4 linked regions of the Homo sapiens genome follow. The protein of the gene in region 3 interacts with the protein of the main gene of each other region in a pairwise test. Each region holds a gene or a part of one and is shown on either strand. Other genes may lie near its edges.

The links. Proteins that work in one complex are often made in the same cells at the same time.
Region 1: the proteins of STK25 (region 3) and GOLGA6L9 interact in binary tests that used the Homo sapiens proteins (3 or more experiments, as listed by UniProt).
Region 2: the proteins of STK25 (region 3) and GOLGA2 interact in binary tests that used the Homo sapiens proteins (3 or more experiments, as listed by UniProt).
Region 4: the proteins of STK25 (region 3) and CEP70 interact in binary tests that used the Homo sapiens proteins (3 or more experiments, as listed by UniProt).

The regions. Positions count from the first base shown.
Region 1 is NC_000015.10:82,435,805-82,439,653, reverse strand, and holds the end of GOLGA6L9 (golgin subfamily A member 6-like protein 9), read right to left. Parts: intron 3,688-3,849; coding exon 3,585-3,687; intron 3,376-3,584; coding exon 3,243-3,375; 3' UTR 501-3,242; downstream 1-500.
Region 2 is NC_000009.12:128,266,008-128,269,937, reverse strand, and holds part of GOLGA2 (golgin subfamily A member 2), read left to right. Parts: intron 1-1,413; coding exon 1,414-1,518; intron 1,519-1,777; coding exon 1,778-1,821; intron 1,822-1,940; coding exon 1,941-2,004; intron 2,005-2,420; coding exon 2,421-2,480; intron 2,481-2,663; coding exon 2,664-2,744; intron 2,745-3,612; coding exon 3,613-3,651; intron 3,652-3,917; coding exon 3,918-3,930. UniProt on the Homo sapiens protein: Peripheral membrane component of the cis-Golgi stack that acts as a membrane skeleton that maintains the structure of the Golgi apparatus, and as a vesicle thether that facilitates vesicle fusion to the Golgi membrane.
Region 3 is NC_000002.12:241,501,547-241,507,046, forward strand, and holds part of STK25 (serine/threonine-protein kinase 25), read right to left. Parts: intron 163-5,500; coding exon 1-162. UniProt on the Homo sapiens protein: Oxidant stress-activated serine/threonine kinase that may play a role in the response to environmental stress.
Region 4 is NC_000003.12:138,500,261-138,504,190, forward strand, and holds part of CEP70 (centrosomal protein of 70 kDa), read right to left. Parts: intron 3,618-3,930; coding exon of another isoform or gene 3,576-3,617; exon of another isoform or gene 990-3,575; intron 622-989; coding exon 475-621; intron 308-474; coding exon 139-307; intron 1-138.

The DNA.
Region 1 (3,849 bases), on a different chromosome or scaffold from region 3:
AGGACTCAGCCTTGGTCAAGGTGGTAAAGGGTCTGTTTGTCTCCCTCCATTAGACAAGGGTCTTGTCTTGCTACCCTAATGGTAAAGGGCTGACTGGGGAGGGGCTGTAGGGACATGGTGGGGGTGAAGACTCCAGACCCACTTCTCCAGGCTTATGCTGACAGGGGCCTGCTTTTATTTATTTTTATTTTTATCCCATGACTTTTTTTAAATCCTGTAACTAATTTTTCATAACTTTTTAAAATAACTTTTCATAAAACTTTTTTTTTACTTTTTTTCCACAACTTTTTTTTGCCACTTTTCCACAGTATTTTTTTATCCTGTAACTTTTTCATCCCACAACTTTAATTCCTGTTAACTTTTTTAGTTTGTGTTCTTTTAATAAACACACTTACATAGTTACAATTTTGTAAGAATAAAAACCGATTACCTCATGCCAAGCATGCCGAGAATTTGCAGAGTCTCAATACCCAGTACTATAGTTTTCAAGACACACAAAATTTTTAGGCAAAACAGCACCTTGAAACAATTTAATAATGTATTACATTATAGTAGCATCACAGCAGCAGTCAATAATGCCACTTTAGACAAAAATCAGTATTTCCATTATGCATTCTGTGTATAAGAATTCATAAATCGGTAAAAGTCATTCTAAGAAAACTTGGCAAATACAGCTTTGGACTGGAATTGGCATTTCTTTGTCTACTTTTCCTTCCCCTAGATTCTTTGTTTTAAACTACAGTATTCATATTTTAAAATGTTTTAAATTATTTTAAGACGTTAATATAGCAGTTACATTTTTGAATAGTTATTTGAAAGTGACTGTAAGATAAAGTTTTAGAGAATCTATTATGGATAGGGTTGATTTACATTTTCACATTTTCTAAAAATCAGCTTTGGTTTTAGAACTGATTGTTTTTCATTTTGGGAAAACCTACCAGGTTTAATCAATTACTTTAAAAATAATTATCATATTTTGCAGTCTTTAAATAGGTGTTTTGATTCTTTACTCCCTACAGAAATTCAAATTTATTCAGTTGAAGTCACATTTTAAAATTCTATGTTCCTGCTGAACTCTAACCTTCTAATGTTGCCTTCTAAGCAAATTAAAGGCTGCCTTATACTGAATGAGGTAGAGAACAAATACTTGGCTGAATGAGGTACTGCAAAAGACTGCATGCACTTTGAAGAAAGACTTGTCATAGTTATTGTCATAGTTATTGTCATAGGATTTCCATTCTCTTTAGCTTTTTCTTAAACATATGACAAAATACCTACACAGAGAGTGGTATTTGAGTTAATATAGTACATTTATTTTTCAGACTGACATTCAGCTTAAATATGCCAGTATGTGATTTAATCCACAGGTACCTGATGAACACATTATTGTCAGATTGGTTACAGTTGCTAAATGCTATCTGAAGGTCATTCCTAGTCATTTATACGTGTCAGGGTAAAAGTGAAGCGATTTGAACTATAAAAATACCTTTGAAATAATTTATCAATGTATTAGGTAAGCTCAGTTTCAGAATGATAAACTGTTAGACCAAATAATGTGGCTAATTAACAGTGGTACGATTTCTAGCCTGAGGGTTTAAAATGGGCTTAAAGTAACTGTCTTTAAACTGAACTCAAAGAATGCAAAAGCGGCAAGTTCAGACAAGGCAAGAACAGGACCTTTAGTCCATTTTAAGCCATAAATATTACACAAAATATGCCTCTAACTGAAACTGAGAGGTATAAAAACATATTTCACTCTTTGTAAAGAACTTTGTGAGGAAATATAACTCTGTGATTGTATAGACACTTTCCTCATGACACTTTGACATTCACGAACAGTAGATTGTGCTGCAGTTTGTAAACGTTTTACGTTGCATAAACTGCTCCTTGATTTTCAAATGTAGTATAATACTGTCTACTAAAACTCCTTTTTGTTTCAACTAAGTACTCTCACATATATTAGTTTATAATAATGTTTGTTATTATTTTTAAAGTGTTCTCCATTCAAGGAAAAGAAGTAAATTCCTATGTCAGATGGTTGAAGACTAGCTATTAGCCAGAGAGGTCTAGATGGTAAAATCCATCTTCTAGCCTCAAATAAGCTCCATGAACACAGAGGAATGCCAGGTGTCACACAGCTTTCCTTCACTCGAATTCATTCTTGACTAGAGCCTGTATATGCCTGTTCCAGGGGCATTTAAACTCTTAAAGGATTTCTTCTGATCTTTACTAAATACATTAAGGAGAACGCCAACCAGTGCCCTTTTGTGTACTGGGACATGTAGTCATGTGATTAAAACAGGGAACATGAACTCTGACTTTAAAATGTATTGTAGATATAAATGCTCTCAGCTAGAAAAGGTTTTCCACATCCACAGTCATGATGGGAGCCTTTCATTCCTCAGAAATAATCCCTTTTCAGGTCATCAAAAAAGAGTACAACTGCCACAGCTCATGAGGCAGTATCTTCATGAGCCTAGAGCACATACAAATCCTAAGGGAACTACCGTAGTACAGCGCTCATTCTTGGCACCGGAACAAATGAAACATATTCTATCCTGCACACACCTGCCAAAGCAGGCCACTTTCCTCTTCTGGGAGATTTAAAAACCTCCCCAAAATGTTATTACTCCCATCCCCAATACACAGAAAAAGGGGGAAAGGCTGTTTCCAGAGGGCAAACCACATATTGAGCTAATGAAGAGCTCACTGTGATTAGGATTCGATCAAACATAACAGCAGAACATAAGGAAATTTTATCTGAATTCCGTAATGAATATACAGGCTGTACTAACATTAAAAAAGCATGGCAGCCTATCCCAAACCAGCAAGAACAGTTGTGTGCATACAGTGGGTCTTTGTGTGTTTGAACTCCCACCACATAAGGGCAAACTCGATATGCATGCTAACGTCCTATAATTATCAAATTAAAGAAATGCTAAAAGATGCCAGAGTGAACATGAGAGAAAGACCCACTCTCATTTAACTTTTTACAAATAAATTTAAATTATAAATTAGAAACAAAAATAAATTTAAACTATAAATTAGAAACACAAATAAATTTAAACTATAAATTAGAAACAAATAAATTTAAACTATAAATTAGAAACACAAATAAATTTAAACTATAAATTAGAAACACAAACATAAGTGGCTCTAACATTCAAATGAAGTAAATGAATTGTGTAGGATATTAACCCCTTAAATGTTTTGTTTTTTTTTTTCAATTTCTTGACCCGCTCTTAGATGATGGTGATGTTTAGCTCCCTGTTCTCGGCAGCCCGAAAAGAATGGCATGCAGCCTCTCCTGCTCCTCCTGCCGCCTCTCCTGTACCAACAGCTTCTCCACTCAAGCCTGGGTGCTCCTGGGGAGTCCTGCATTAGAGGAAGCAGCTGCTGGATCTGCTGTGCAGTGGGGTTGTCATGGGGGAGAACCCTCCCTGTCCTCTCCCGGTGCAGCCTCCATGCTATCAGTGAGGCTCAGCTCACTAAGATCTTCAGAGAGAGGGAGGGGGTGGGAATCTGGGCACAGTGCGAGCCTCCCCTGCTCCTGCCTGCCCACCCCGCCTGAGGGCTCTACTCACCACCCTGCTTGTCCGCACATCCAAGCTCCTTGTGGGACTGGGGCTCCAGCTACTGGTCTGGCTGCTGCTGCAGACTCGGAGCCTCTTGGCTCTTCAGCTCCACCTGCCGGAAGACCCTGGGCATGAGGACATGTGGTGGCTGGCTTCCAGATTCCTGGCCCATTAATAGGGTAGCGAGGGCACTGTGGGGCTCTGTGGCCTGCCCAGGCCCCTGGCCCCTTGCTCCAGGCCTAAGAGACTGTCTCCCTTGCTTAGAACCCCATGC
Region 2 (3,930 bases), on a different chromosome or scaffold from region 3:
AGGTTCCATGGTCACAGTAAACTTGCAAAGATGCAAAGGCAGCTTGGCTCATCTTCAGTTCCACCAGCCTCTGCAGCACTTGCTCTAAGGAGGGAAGCAGATTTGGGTTTTCAGAAGCCAGGGCTGAAGGGTCCAGTGAGCGCGCAGTCCTTTCCCTGGAGAGAGGTGTAGTCACTTCTCCCAGACCCAGCTTCCGTGGCCAGGCCCTGGCTCCCTGGTGTTTTTCTCTTGTCCAGCTTAGCTGGTCAGCCAGCTTTTTCCACTGTCTGCCCATCTGGCTTGTCAGATATTAGAAGATCTCTAGAACCAGAGGCTTGGGCGAAGAGTAAGGTCAGAGCCTGGAGAGAGGCTGGGTGGGGCTCTGATCAAGCAGGTAGGTCCAGTTGGGGGCAAGGGAGAGGCTCCACATGACCCCAAGTTCTGAATCCTAGGATTGTCCTCAGGTACTATTCCCAGGAAAGAGGCCCTACAACTTCCAAGTTGCCAAGAGCCACAGGGAAGATGTCTTACCTCTGTTTTCTTGGGTGGTTTCTTGGCTGGGTAGATGTTTTTGGAGGTAAGAGGTCGGGGTGGGGGTGTTGGCCATGGTTTATCCTCTTTTTACCTCCAGAGAGTTGGAGAGAGTCTTCTAGTTGGGCAGCTTTTTTTTTTTCCCCCTGAAAAGGCCTGAATCAGAAACACAGCCAGTAGGCCAAGTGCAATGGCTCACACCTGTAATCTCAACATTTTGGGAGACCAAGGTGGATCACTTGAGCCCAGGACTTTGAGACCAGCCTGGGCAAGATGGCAAGACCATGTTTCTATAGAAATTAGCTGAGCATGGTAGTGTGCACCTATAATCTCAGCTACTAGGGAGGCTGAGGTGGGAGCATTGCTTGAGCCCAGGAGGTGGAAGCTGCAGTGAACTATGATTGTGCCACTGCAGGGGAGAAGGGAAGGGAGGAAAGGAGGAGACAGGCAGATAGCTACATTGTGCATTGCCCAGACAACTACTTCCTCATCACCATCCTCTGCCCAGTAGGGGCCCAGTGAGGGTCACTCTGCAGCACAGACTGGCCTTCTGGAAGAACAGTGCCTTTCTCCTCCCTGACTTTGGCACACCTTCCTCCTGCCTGCTGTGGCTGCCACAGGTCAGAGCCTGCTGCTGTCTTTTGCTGAGCTCCAGGGAGAGCGAGGTCCTCGTGTTCATGAAGGAGGCCGTGCAGCCCCTGCTTTGAGCTTTGGCCATCTGAAATGCTGCCTAGCAGCCCAAGGCCTGGGCAACCAATCCACACCCCTGAGTGGCTCCTAGCATGTGTGACTGTCACTCTGACTGCAGCAACACCTGTCCTACCTGTTCCACACCCTTGTGTTCATAGTACTGAGGCACCTCTCCCGCATGGCCCCCTAACCCCCTGCTCTGTTCTGTGACAGACACCCAAGGACAATGCTGCTACTCTACAACCATCTGATGACACCGTGTTACCTGGCGGTGTCCCTTCCCCTGGTGCCAGTCTCACTAGCATGGCGGCATCTCAGGTTCGTGCCTCCTCCCCCTCTGCCCACTGCCCTCCTGTACCTATTATGCATTATCTTCTCCTTTCACAGGCAGCTTGTTCCCTAGGGTCAAGGGCCCTTCCTGGGGACCGGGCCGGGGGAAGGCTCAGACTGGGCTTTTTTCCTTGAGGCCTGGGGAGATTGAAGATTGTTAGAATGAGTTTGGGAGCTTGACTCACCCCATCCTGGGTGATTCTTACCAGAAATTGAATGACCATCTCACACGTTTCTTCCCAAACAGAATCATGATGCTGACAATGTCCCTAATCTCATGGATGAAACCAAGTGAGTGTCTCCTGTTGGGGCAGCAGTCTCTAGGCTGAGAGAGTCAGGGAGGCCACTGCCCATGACCTTCTTTCCCATTGAGCCACCTGCACCCCTGACCCCTGTGTCTCCATCCCTAGGACTTTCTCATCAACCGAGAGCCTGCGACAACTCTCCCAACAGCTCAATGGTCTTGTTTGTGAGGTACCTCAGGAACTGAGGCCGAGAGCGGGGTGGGGGGAAGGGAACTATGATAGAAACTGAAGCAGGGATTCACAAGAGAGAGGGAAGATCCTGGGACCAGCCAATGTGCTGGGCAATGTTAAGGAAGTCGCCTTTTCCCTGAGCCTTCTCCCTTGAAGTTGTGCACATGAAGGAGTTGGACCCCATGACTGGTTGCATCATTGTATCCTGCTGCAGAAGCACTGGATGAGAGCTGCTCGGGAGGAAAGGATGGTGGGGAAATAAGAACCATGAGAGAAGTTGGCACAAAGGGGTTACGGGACAGAGGGTCCAAGTTAGAAAAGAAAATGTTGCCAATTGCTGGGGAAGAAACGAAGTTAGAGGGCTTAGACACTGAGGGGACAGAACATCTCCATGTGCACTCTCGTCTCTTATAGTCTGCGACATGTGTCAATGGGGAGGGCCCTGCATCGTCTGCTAACCTGAAGGATCTGGAGGTAAGAGGCCCTGGGCCGTGGCCCAGTGACCCTGCAGGCCAGCCCTCCAACCTCCTCCCACAGCGGGGGCTGGGTGCCCCTCTGCCAGCTGAGACAGCCCACACACCCCCCAACCCTAATGATTGCTCTCTCTACCTCTCCCCCCAATCCTCCTCCAACTCCTCCTCTCTGCATGCGCCTCAGAGCCGGTACCAACAGCTAGCGGTAGCCCTGGACTCCAGCTATGTAACAAACAAACAACTCAATATCACGATAGAGAAATTGGTAAGAGTCCAGTGGGGTCCCCTGATTCCATGCTGCTAATCCTGGGCTCCAGTTTCCCCTTGGGACCCTGAAGAAAGGGGCAGGGGGCCCCTGGTGCCAAGGGCGAATGGGGAGCTGGGGGGCCCAGGCCTCAGCTGGAGGGACCCCAGAGCACGGAGCATGCAGCATGGCTCTTCTGTTGCTGCCCTCTTTGCCTACTCTCTCTTCTCTAGACACCCCTGCTCGAGTCCTTGCCACACACGCCCTGGGGTTGTTGCCTCTTGGGGAAGCGCTAGCCTGACTGGTTGTCAGGAGCCCTGTATTTCTGCCCTGACTCAGTCCTTAATTTGCTCTTTGATTTGGGACAAGCCACCTCTCCTCCTTGGGCTTGCATTTCCTGAGGAGGTAGAGTTAGAGAGTATCAAAGGTCTCTTAGCTCTGAGAGTCCAAGATTTAAAGGCCCATTAGAATGTAAACCTCAGGGCCAAGGGCTCCTGTCTGTCTTTTTCTGTCTGGTATCCCTGCTATTAAGAACCGTACCTGGCCTGTGTGTGCTCAGCAAATGTTTGTTGAATGATTACACCTTTCTAAATCACAAACTGGCAGAGGGTGGGCTTTTCTCACACTCCATCTCTAGAGGTTTATGTTACTGTCCTTTCAAGAGAATCGAGATTCAGACTTTCAGTTCTGTGGCTGTGGGCAAAAACCAACAAAGACACAAATCCCCTTTCCTTGAGAGCCTGAGGAGAGTTTACCAGTTCGTGTTCCCATTGGGTCTGAGAACTTTGCCTTTAAAATCCATTCCTGGCCCCTGCCTACCCGTTCCTGGTCTGGGGAATAGAGTTGAGGGGGCCACCCTCAGTCACCTTCCTTTGACTCTTCCCCACAGAAACAACAGAACCAAGAAATTACGGATCAGTTGGAAGAAGTAACGTGATTTCTTTGTTTGCTCACAACATGACTGCTGGGTTTGGGGGGCATTCAAATGTAGAGGCCTCAGTCTCGTCTCACCCACTCCCAGCCTGGGGAAGAAGGCTCACCCCCCCAGATTCCACCCCATCCCCACAGGGTCCCTGATAACCTGGTCCCATGGGTGGGCCTGTCCTGGGACATTGGTGGCATTCTGGGGGCATGTCCCTTGCTGTGCCGTCTCTGCCTCCCCCTCGTAAGAGCTCTGTCTTCCTCTTCCTATAGGAAAAGAAAGAAT
Region 3 (5,500 bases):
CTGGATGTCCTCGATCTCATCCTCGGCCTCCTCCAGGTCGATGATCTTGATGGCCACCACCTCCTTTGTGTGGTTATCGATGCCCTTGTAGACCTCCCCAAACGAGCCCTTGCCAATGCGGTCGAGCTTGGTGAAGAGCTCCTCAGGGTCCACTCGAGAGTGCTGTGGGGCCAGGGCGGGGACAGAGGGCAGACAGCGCCGGTCACAAGAGGCGGGGGACAGGCAGAGGCTGCCCTGCTGGGGAGGAAGGGACCTGTAGGGAAGGGGGAGTCCAAGGGAGCGCACCTCAATTCTTCTCTGGTTTCTTCCTTTCTCCCTTTTTGTTCAAAAACTAAACTTGGCCGGGCGTGGTGGCTCACGCCTGTAATTCTAGCACTTTGGGAGGCCGAGGCAGGTGGATCACTTGAGGTCAGGAGTTCGAGACCAGCCTGGCCAGCATGGTGAAACCCCATCTCTAATACAAAAAAATTATCTGGGCGTGGCGGCTCATGCCTGTAATCCCAGCTACTCAGGAGGCTGAGGCAGGAGAATTGCTTGAACCCGGGAGGCGGAGGTTGCAGTGAGCCAAGACCGCACCATTGCACTCCAACCTGGGCAACAAGAATCAAACTCCATTAAAAAAACAAACAAACAAACAAATAACAACAACAAAAAAACCTAAACTGAACTTTCCATGCAAGGGAAAAAGTCCCCAGAAAGTATAAAGAGGCCAGGCCAACTCGATGAACCCTGCTGGAAACAGGAGCTTTAGGTGATGACACGGCATGAAGGTTGCCTCATCTAACCCGAACAACATGCCAGCCCCGTGACAGATGTTAATAGGTGAATGGCCCCTGGGGGTGAGGGGGGATTTGGGAGCTCTTACTTAATTTGTTATAAATCTGAAATTACTAAAAAATAAACTCATCAGGCCAGGCTTGGTGGTGCACACCTGAAATCCCAGCACTCTGGGAGGCCAAGGCGGGTTGATCACCTGAAGTCAGGAGTTCGCAACCAGCCTGACTAACATGGTAAAACCCCATCTCTACTGAATACAAAAAAAATTAGCCGGGCGAGGTTGCGTATGCCTGTGATCCGAGCTACTTGAGAGTCCAAGACAGAAGAATCACTTGAATCAGGGAAGCGGAGGTTGCGGTGAGCCGAGATCGCACCATCGCACTCCAGCCTGGGCAACAAGAGCGAAACTAGGTCTCAAAAAAATAAAAAATTTAAAAAAAAAAACCTCATCAAAAACAAAAAACCTCAGTATGTGTTAACCAAGTTCTCCTCCACTCCTGAAAGTCACGTATTTAGAAAGGGCTTCCCTCACCCCTCCATAAGTCCTCCTGACAGCTACACCAGCGCGGAGTTAGAAACTTGATGCTTTCTTGATGCAGAAAGCTGCCTCACACAGTCCTCAGATTTAAAGAAGCAATGCCTAAAAGTTTCTGAGCCAGTGGTGTGGAAGGTGCCTGGGGTCTGTGGCCCAGGCCCAGAGTCCAGGGGAAGCCAGCAGAGGTGTGTCCTCAAGCCTCGACCCTTTTTTAAATGTTTTTGAGATGGCTTCTCACTCTGTCACCCAGGCTGGAGTGTAGTGGTGCAATCTTGGCTCACTGCAACCTCTGCCTCCTGGGTTCAAGCGATTCTTCTGCCTCAGCCTCCCAAGTAGCTGGAATTACAGGCATGCACCACCACTCCCAGTTAATTTTTTGTATTTTTAGTAGAGATAAGGTTTCACCATGTTGGCCAGGCTGGTCTCGAACTCCTGACTTCAGGTGATCTGCCCATCTCAGCCTCCCAAAGTGCTGGGATTACAGGCGTGAGCCACCACGCACGGCCCCTCCCCTAACAACATCAAGGGTCTTGATGCCAATTTAGTGTGGCAGAGCATAAAAAGGCAAAACAGCCTGGGCGCGGTGGTTCACGCCTGTAATCCCAACACTTTGGGAGGCCGAGGCGGGCAGATCACGAGGTCAGGAGATCAAGACCACCCTGGCTAACATGGTGAAACCCCGTCTCTACTAAAAAATACAAAAAATTAGCCGGGTGTGGTGGTGGGCGCCTGCAGTCCCAGCTACTCGGGAGGCTGAGGCAGGATAATATCATGAACCCAGGAGGCGGAGATCGTGCCACTGCACTCCAGCCTGGGCGACAGAGCAAGACTCCGTCTCAAAAAAAAAAAAAAAAAAAAAGGCAAAACGACTAATTATGCCACAAAAAAAAACACTGAAGACAGGACAGGTCCTTGGGTGGGGGTGCCCTGCACGTTCCTGGGCCTGCGGAGACCGTGCCCACCAAGAAGGATGGGGTACACCACACACAGCCCTCACACTCACCCCCTGGACACCTGTGTGCTGGGTCCACCCCAGGCCTAAGCCCAGCGGAGGAGCTGGCTGAAGCCAACTGGACATCGCACCAGCCTGAGGCGACACTTCCGTGTGAAACTGCCAATTAGCTGACCTCCCAGGGTTCCTAACCAGGAGGGTGGAAGGGGCGGCACACAGGCCCCCACCTTGAAACATGCCGCTGCACATCCCTTTTTGAGTGCCAGACCTCGAGGTGACTGGAACTCTGGGGAAGGAAAGGCAGTTAGGGGAGGGCCAGAGGCCACCTAACCTTTCCCTGCAAGGCTGGCTTGTCAAGGCCCGGGGGTGTGCAGGTGGCCTCCATGCAGCAGCTAGAGCAGGCCAGCTGCAGTGTACACACAGACCCTTGCTTAGCCCAAAGGTCTGGCCAGTTGAGACAGCTGGTCGAGTCAAAAGTGACCTTTCTCATTCTCTCATCAGTACAGCAGCCCAGTCCTAAAGCCAGTACCCATGGAGGAAACAGCAGGGGGTGCCTTGAGCCCACCTGCTACCAGGAGTCCCCAAAGCCAAGGTCAAGAAACTCGGCAGGATAGAGAGAGCTGAGTACTGCCTGGGGTCATTCCGGTCAAGGTGAGCTGTGTCTGCCCCCAGCCCCATCACTGCTGCTGACCATGTGTTCTAAAGAGAAGCCAGGAAAAATTCAAAGCTGACAAGTCACAGGTGCTCAGCTGTCTCCGGGTTGAGGGTGGGTGGCACAGATGAGGTGAGAACCAGCCCCTATCTGAAAGGAAAGTCAACCCAGAACATGCAATCTTTTTTTGAGATGGGGGGTCTCGCTGTGTGCCCAGGCTGGTCTCCTCAGCCTCCTGAGTAGCTGGGCCCACAAGTGCATGTCAAAGCATAAGCTCATCAGCCCACTGGCTGTCATAGGTAAGCAGTCAGTGTTAAAATATCACCCTCCTGCCATAGAGAGCATCATCTCCGTTTCCTCCTCCCTGTTTGCTCCATTTCTGGTGGAGGACCACCCGTTCCTAGCCCAGTCCTGGATGCCAGGTGCAGGACAAGGTTAAGAAGCAGCCCCTCTTCTTTTTCTTTTTTTTTTTGAGATAGAGTCTCACTCTGTTGCCCAGGCTGGAGTGCAGTGGCGTGATCTCGGCTCACTGCAACCTCCGCCTCCCAGGTTCAAGCGATTCTTCCACCTCAGCCTCCCGAGTAGCCGGACTTACAGGCACCCGCCATCATGCCCCGTTAATTTTTTTTTTTTTTGAATTTTTGTAGAGACAGGGTTTCACCATGTTGGCCAGGCTAGTCTCGAACTCCTGACCTCAGGTGATCTGCAGAAGCAGCCCCTCTTCTGCCTGCTCCTCCTCCAGCAGGCCCAACGCCACCTTGTCAAATCCTCCCTGTTTGCTCAGCCCATCAACGCTTACTCGGGGCCCTGGGACGCTGCTCCACCGAGCCGTTAGCCTGTAGGCCTGGCCTCAGCCTCAACCCAACCCTGCCCAAGCACCCGGAAAGACCCCAAGGGAGTCCTCCTGGGGATTCCAGAGGTCTGTTGGTGCCCTGAGCTTGTGTCCTCCCATCTACTCCTGTCTAAGGTGGCCTGAGAGAGGGCCTGGAGAAAGCAGGGCCATGACCTGGCAGCATTACCCAGCACCACCACCCCTCCGACTCTTCAGGCCTCTCTGGATGACGCGTCCTCCCGCCCTGCTCTACTCCCTGCTCCCTGCTGAGGCCATGCTGCTCTCCACACAGGGCCTGGAGCTGAATCTGCTCCATCACAGCAGCCCCGGTAGGGAAACCCCTGGGTGGGCACTCAGACCTCTACTGCTTCACAGCAGGGGAGCACAGCGGACCCCTAAGCCAGAGCCAGGGCTCATCAGCCCAAGCAGAAACTGTGTGACAGGAACCCTCTTGGCTGTGATCCTGGCCCTACAATGACATCGCAGGCCAAGCCAAGGCAAGCCATCCCCACCCCCACCTGGAGAAGAAAGGGTAAGTGGGCCCCTGGCCTGGAGGCTGCGAATCCTCTTTTGGATGTAGCAGCAGCTGTGGCCTGGATGATCACTCGGGCCACTCAGCTGACTCGAGCGGTGGACACCTGTTCTCCACATTAGCCCTGGGGCTGCCAGGTCTGGGGCCTCCACTTGCCAATGTGTCTGCTGTCAGTGTTGCCCCACAAAACAAGGGGAATGACCCAGCACACATAGCTGAGTGGTGATACAGTGCTCTGGCACCCCACAGCCATTCGGGCCCTCCAGGGCCAGGCAGGAACTGGCCAGGTAGAGGGGAGAAGTCTAAGGCAGGAGCACAGGCTATGGGGGGAACGCGCCCCACTCTCCCACAAAGGGGCTGCCCCACAGGTCCACAGGACACCATGGCAACCATCTCAGGAGAAAACCACAGCCCCTCAGGTTTTCTGCCACTATATGAAGTCAAGTCTCTCATCATCCAGGCTGGGACAAAGGGATCCCTAAAAGGACAAAAGGAGCTTCCTACCTTTGGAATCCCTTCTCCAATGTGCCCGCACTCCCTTCCCTGTGTGCGATCGCACCAAGAACCAATAGCACACAGTTACAGGGCACCTCGGAGCTCCAATTTCTCATCCTGTGACCCAAAGGAGTTATTTCTGCAGTTCTTAAAAATAAACTGGTGGCCGAGCGCGGTGGCTCATGCCTGTAATCCCAGCACGTTGGGAGGCCAGGGCAAGCAGATCACCTGAGGTCAGGAGTTTGAGACCAGCCTGACCAACATGGTGAAACTCCGTCTCTACTAAAAATACAAAATTAGCTGGGCATGGTGGCGCATGCCTGTAATCCAAGCTACTTGGGAGGCCAAGACAGGAGAATCGCTTGTACTTGGGAGGCAGAGGGTGCAGTGAGCTGAGATTGCACCATTGCACTCCAACCTGGGCAACAAAAGCGAAACTCCGTCTCAAAAAAATAAAAATAAAGTAAAATAAACTGGTGGCAGATTTTTCTCCCAGCACCTTAGTCATGTAAGTTACCAGATACAGAATGCCAAAAGCAAACCAAAAATCTGTTAGCTTAATTCAGCAACAGTCAGCAAGCCCCAGTCTCATCTGTGACCACGCAGGTCCAGGTTGCCTGGCCCAACAGCTGCACATGGTGTTCCGGGTCTCTAGGCTGGTCCGGTTTCCTCCAAAGCAGCCCTGACTCCAGTTCCTGCCCCTACGCGAACAGACGCCCTTCCTG
Region 4 (3,930 bases), on a different chromosome or scaffold from region 3:
ATTTCCAAAATTACATACATCAAACATTTTATGCTTCAGTTATCCTCAATTTTTCACTTAAACATTTTTTAATCTACTTTTTGTTAATTTATTAAAAATTCTTAAATGGGGGCCCAAAATGACAAATTAGGTCATCACCTAATTCTAAGAGTTCTTGGAGGTTTCTCACAGCATTGTTCATTTCTCCAAGCCTAGTATAAACTTCATTCATTCGGGGATAGACTCCATTTAAAGAAGGCACATCAAATAACTTTTGGAAGTGAGAAACAATAGCTTGCAAAGTTTGAAAGTGTGGCATATTGCTGTCCTGTCCAAAAAAGAGGTAAAAAAGAAAGAGTTCATTATCTTAAAATAATCCCAAATAAAAACTTTTAAAAGACAAATAGAACTCTAGTAGAACAAATATCAATATCCACAATTTATCAGTTTTTGAGATAAGAAACATTAGAAGGTGACCGTTCATGTAGGTATTACCTTTTCCTTATTTTCAACTTCTTCCAGCATAGTATCTACTATAAACAACAAATCTTCAACTTTGATACCTTCATTTTCATCCTGCTTCTTCAAATTAAGCCAAGGTACCAGTTCTGCAGATAGTGTTTTCAAGGACTTATACAAATCCTTTATAACAAAAGAAACTATATGGTATTATTGATTTAAATAATTTCTATAGTAACATAATAGAACATAATTAGTAAAATTATAAGTTTTATATATTATATGTTTTATAAAATTAATAAAACATAATTACACAGGTTAAAAAAATATATATGTAACCATCATTTTTTTTAAATAAAAATACTACTACCAATTTAGAACAAGTCAGTTAAAATTAGGTTTCTCCAGGTAAACACAGGCTTTACAGAAAACATTATATATTGATTATTCTGAATCTGAGTGCTCTAAGTAATTTTATGTTATTTATTATTGTTCCATAATATTTCATTATTTTGAATTGTTGATACACAAAGAATAAACTTGCCCTTGAATTTTGGTTTTGAATATGTTATATAACAGCTTTATTGAGATGTAATTCATATACCATAAAATTTACCCTAAGTATACAATTCAGTAGTTTTAATATTTTCACACATGTACAAACATCAGCACTATCCAATTTCAGAACATATTCATTACTCCAAAAAGAAATCTCAGACCCACTAAGAGTCCTTCCTTCCCCATTTTCCCTTCCCTGCAGCTCCTAGGGTTAATCTCTAAACTATTTTCTGTTTCTATGGATTTGCCTATTCTAGGCATTTTGCATAAAGGGAATTATACAATAAGTAGTCTTTTATGAATGACGTCTCTCACTTAGCATAATGTTTTTAAGATTTATCCATGTTATAACATGTATCTCCAGGCAAGTTTTTAATGTGAAAGGTTCCCTAAATGTATTCTACATTATAATACTCCACTTAGTTTTCTTGGCCTAGTTGTGGTGCCCTAATTGATTTTAAACTGTGCACAATGGGCAAGGCTACTGAAAGTTTAGAGCTCTAGACTGATCAATCGACAAATATTTAGAATTCCTAGTCCGAAAATCTGAAATGCTCCAAAATCTGAAACTCTGAGCAACAACAGGACACTCAAAAGAAATGCTCATTGGAGCATTCTGAATTTCGGATTTTTGGATCAGTGATGCTCAAATGGCATATATTCTGCAAATACTCCAAAATCTGAAAAAATTCTTAATCAAAATACTTCTAGGCCCAAGCACTGTGGATAAGGGATACTCAATCCATATGTGTATGGCACAGCGCTTGGTCCTTTAGAACAACGCTGTCCAAAAGAAATGTAATGTGAGCCACAGTAATTTTAAGTTGTCTAGGGCCATAGTATGGAAAGTGAAAAGAAACATGTGATATTAACTGTACTAGTATATTTTATTTAACCCAATATATCCAAAATATTATCATTTCAATATAAAATCAATTATTTTAATTTTTCCCATACAAAGTCTTCTAAATCCAGTGTATATTTTACACTTATAACACATCTGAATTAGGACTAGCCACCTTTCAAGTGATCAATAACCACATGCAGCTAGAGGCTACCATACTAGACAGCACAGCTCTAGAGAACAGAAAGAAGTACAAGAAGTTCCTCCTTTTTCTAACTTATTTTAGTACTTCACTTGACACTCTCCACTTAAGGCTCAGACTTCACATATTGGTATCTTTAACCTTTCAATTGGTAGGAAGGCAGTTACTATTTTAGTAATTCATAGCAATAAATTCCATGTCAAATGAATGTTTTACAATCAATGCCACTAGAATTTGAAAAAAAAAAAAGTCAGCAAGTAACAGCATAATGATACCTTTATTAACCAATGCTCCAGGAACAAGGCACATTTATAAAGTAATCTATGGTAAAAAGCATACCCAATCTAATACATTTTTGCTTCAGAATAAAAGAGTATTACAAAGCTAAGAAGAAAAGATGTTCTGGTCTCCTAAGCAGTGACAGGATGGTTGTAGCACAGTCCATCAAGTAAGCTCTGAAAAATATAAGAGGGTCTCCTAGGTTCTTTACATTGCCCAGTTGTGGAGATGTAGAAGTACTACCATGAGCCAGCCTACCGTGTACGTCTGGCCTCTGAAGCACTGGAGAATAGCAAAGCAAAAGTATTCAAGAGTGTACTGGGTTGGGGAAAGCTACAACATCTGTAGTTCACCTTTCTTGGAAAGGCAGGAGGGAAAAGACACAAGGCTGGAGGCAGCTGGCTCCATGTCTTTCCCAGCCTTCTTTTCTTCCAATTTTTAAAACTAGTAAAATACCCATAAAATTCACCATCTTAACAATTTTTAAATGTAAGTTCAGTGTTAATATGTTCATAATGTTGTGCAACCAACATCACCATCCATCTCCATAATTCTTTTCATCTTGTAACACTGAAACTTTATACCCATTAAACAATAACTTCCCATTTCCCTCCTCCCTCTAGCCATCACCACTCTACTTTGTCTCTATGATTTTCACTAAGTATCTCATACAAGTGGAATCATATAAGTGGAATCTTCTTGTGACTGACTTATTTCACTTAGCATAATGTCCTCATAATGTTCACCCATGTTGCAAGGGTCAGAATTTCTTTCCTTTTAATGGCTGAATAATATTGCAATATATGTATATACCACATTTTGCTTATCCATTCATCCCTCAAACCTATCTTACTCTTTAAAGCCAAATTTAACCTGAGGGAAAAAACTAATCTGGGAAGATGGTTGTCCCAAACTTAGAGGTTGCTACATATCAAATAACCTTTGATATGAGGCCTCAGAGAATCTCATGTAGTTTCTTAATTTGGACCCTGAAACTGTAGTATTAATATCTGAAGCACTGCTCAAAATCCATGAGTTACTCCAATGGCAGAAGTAACTAATTCTTAATAATTTCTTCTTGGGTGTCCTCAGAATATTCTAATTATAAAGCGAATTCCTTGCCTCCTCCTCCTCCTCAGAAAACCATACAATAGCAAGAACTCACCACCATGGCAAAGCCCTTCTTGGGGGCTACAATCAGAGTGTTCTCTTTCTCCTCCAGACTCTAGAGCACAAGTTATCTGCATCATTCACTCAGAACTTCAACCGGTAATCTATTTTTATGTCACTCATTTCCTTTAACGATATAAATGATTACATTTTGTTTCATATTTTTTAGTATATTTTGTCTAATTAGTCTGAATCTTGTGTTCATCCCATAATGGCTTAGCATGATAAACGATCAATAACTATCCATTAGTGTGATTCTTCCCTTTGTCTTCTTCCTCTTCTAGTCTTTTCTTCTAGGAAGGCTAGGGCTTTTTCTAGTCCATCCCTTCTGAGATGAAGAAAGGTGGAGTCAGCACTGTTTCCTCCTACTGGGAGAACCCTCTGACAGGCAGTGATTGAGGAAATACCATGATTTACACTATTACTAATTATTTTACAC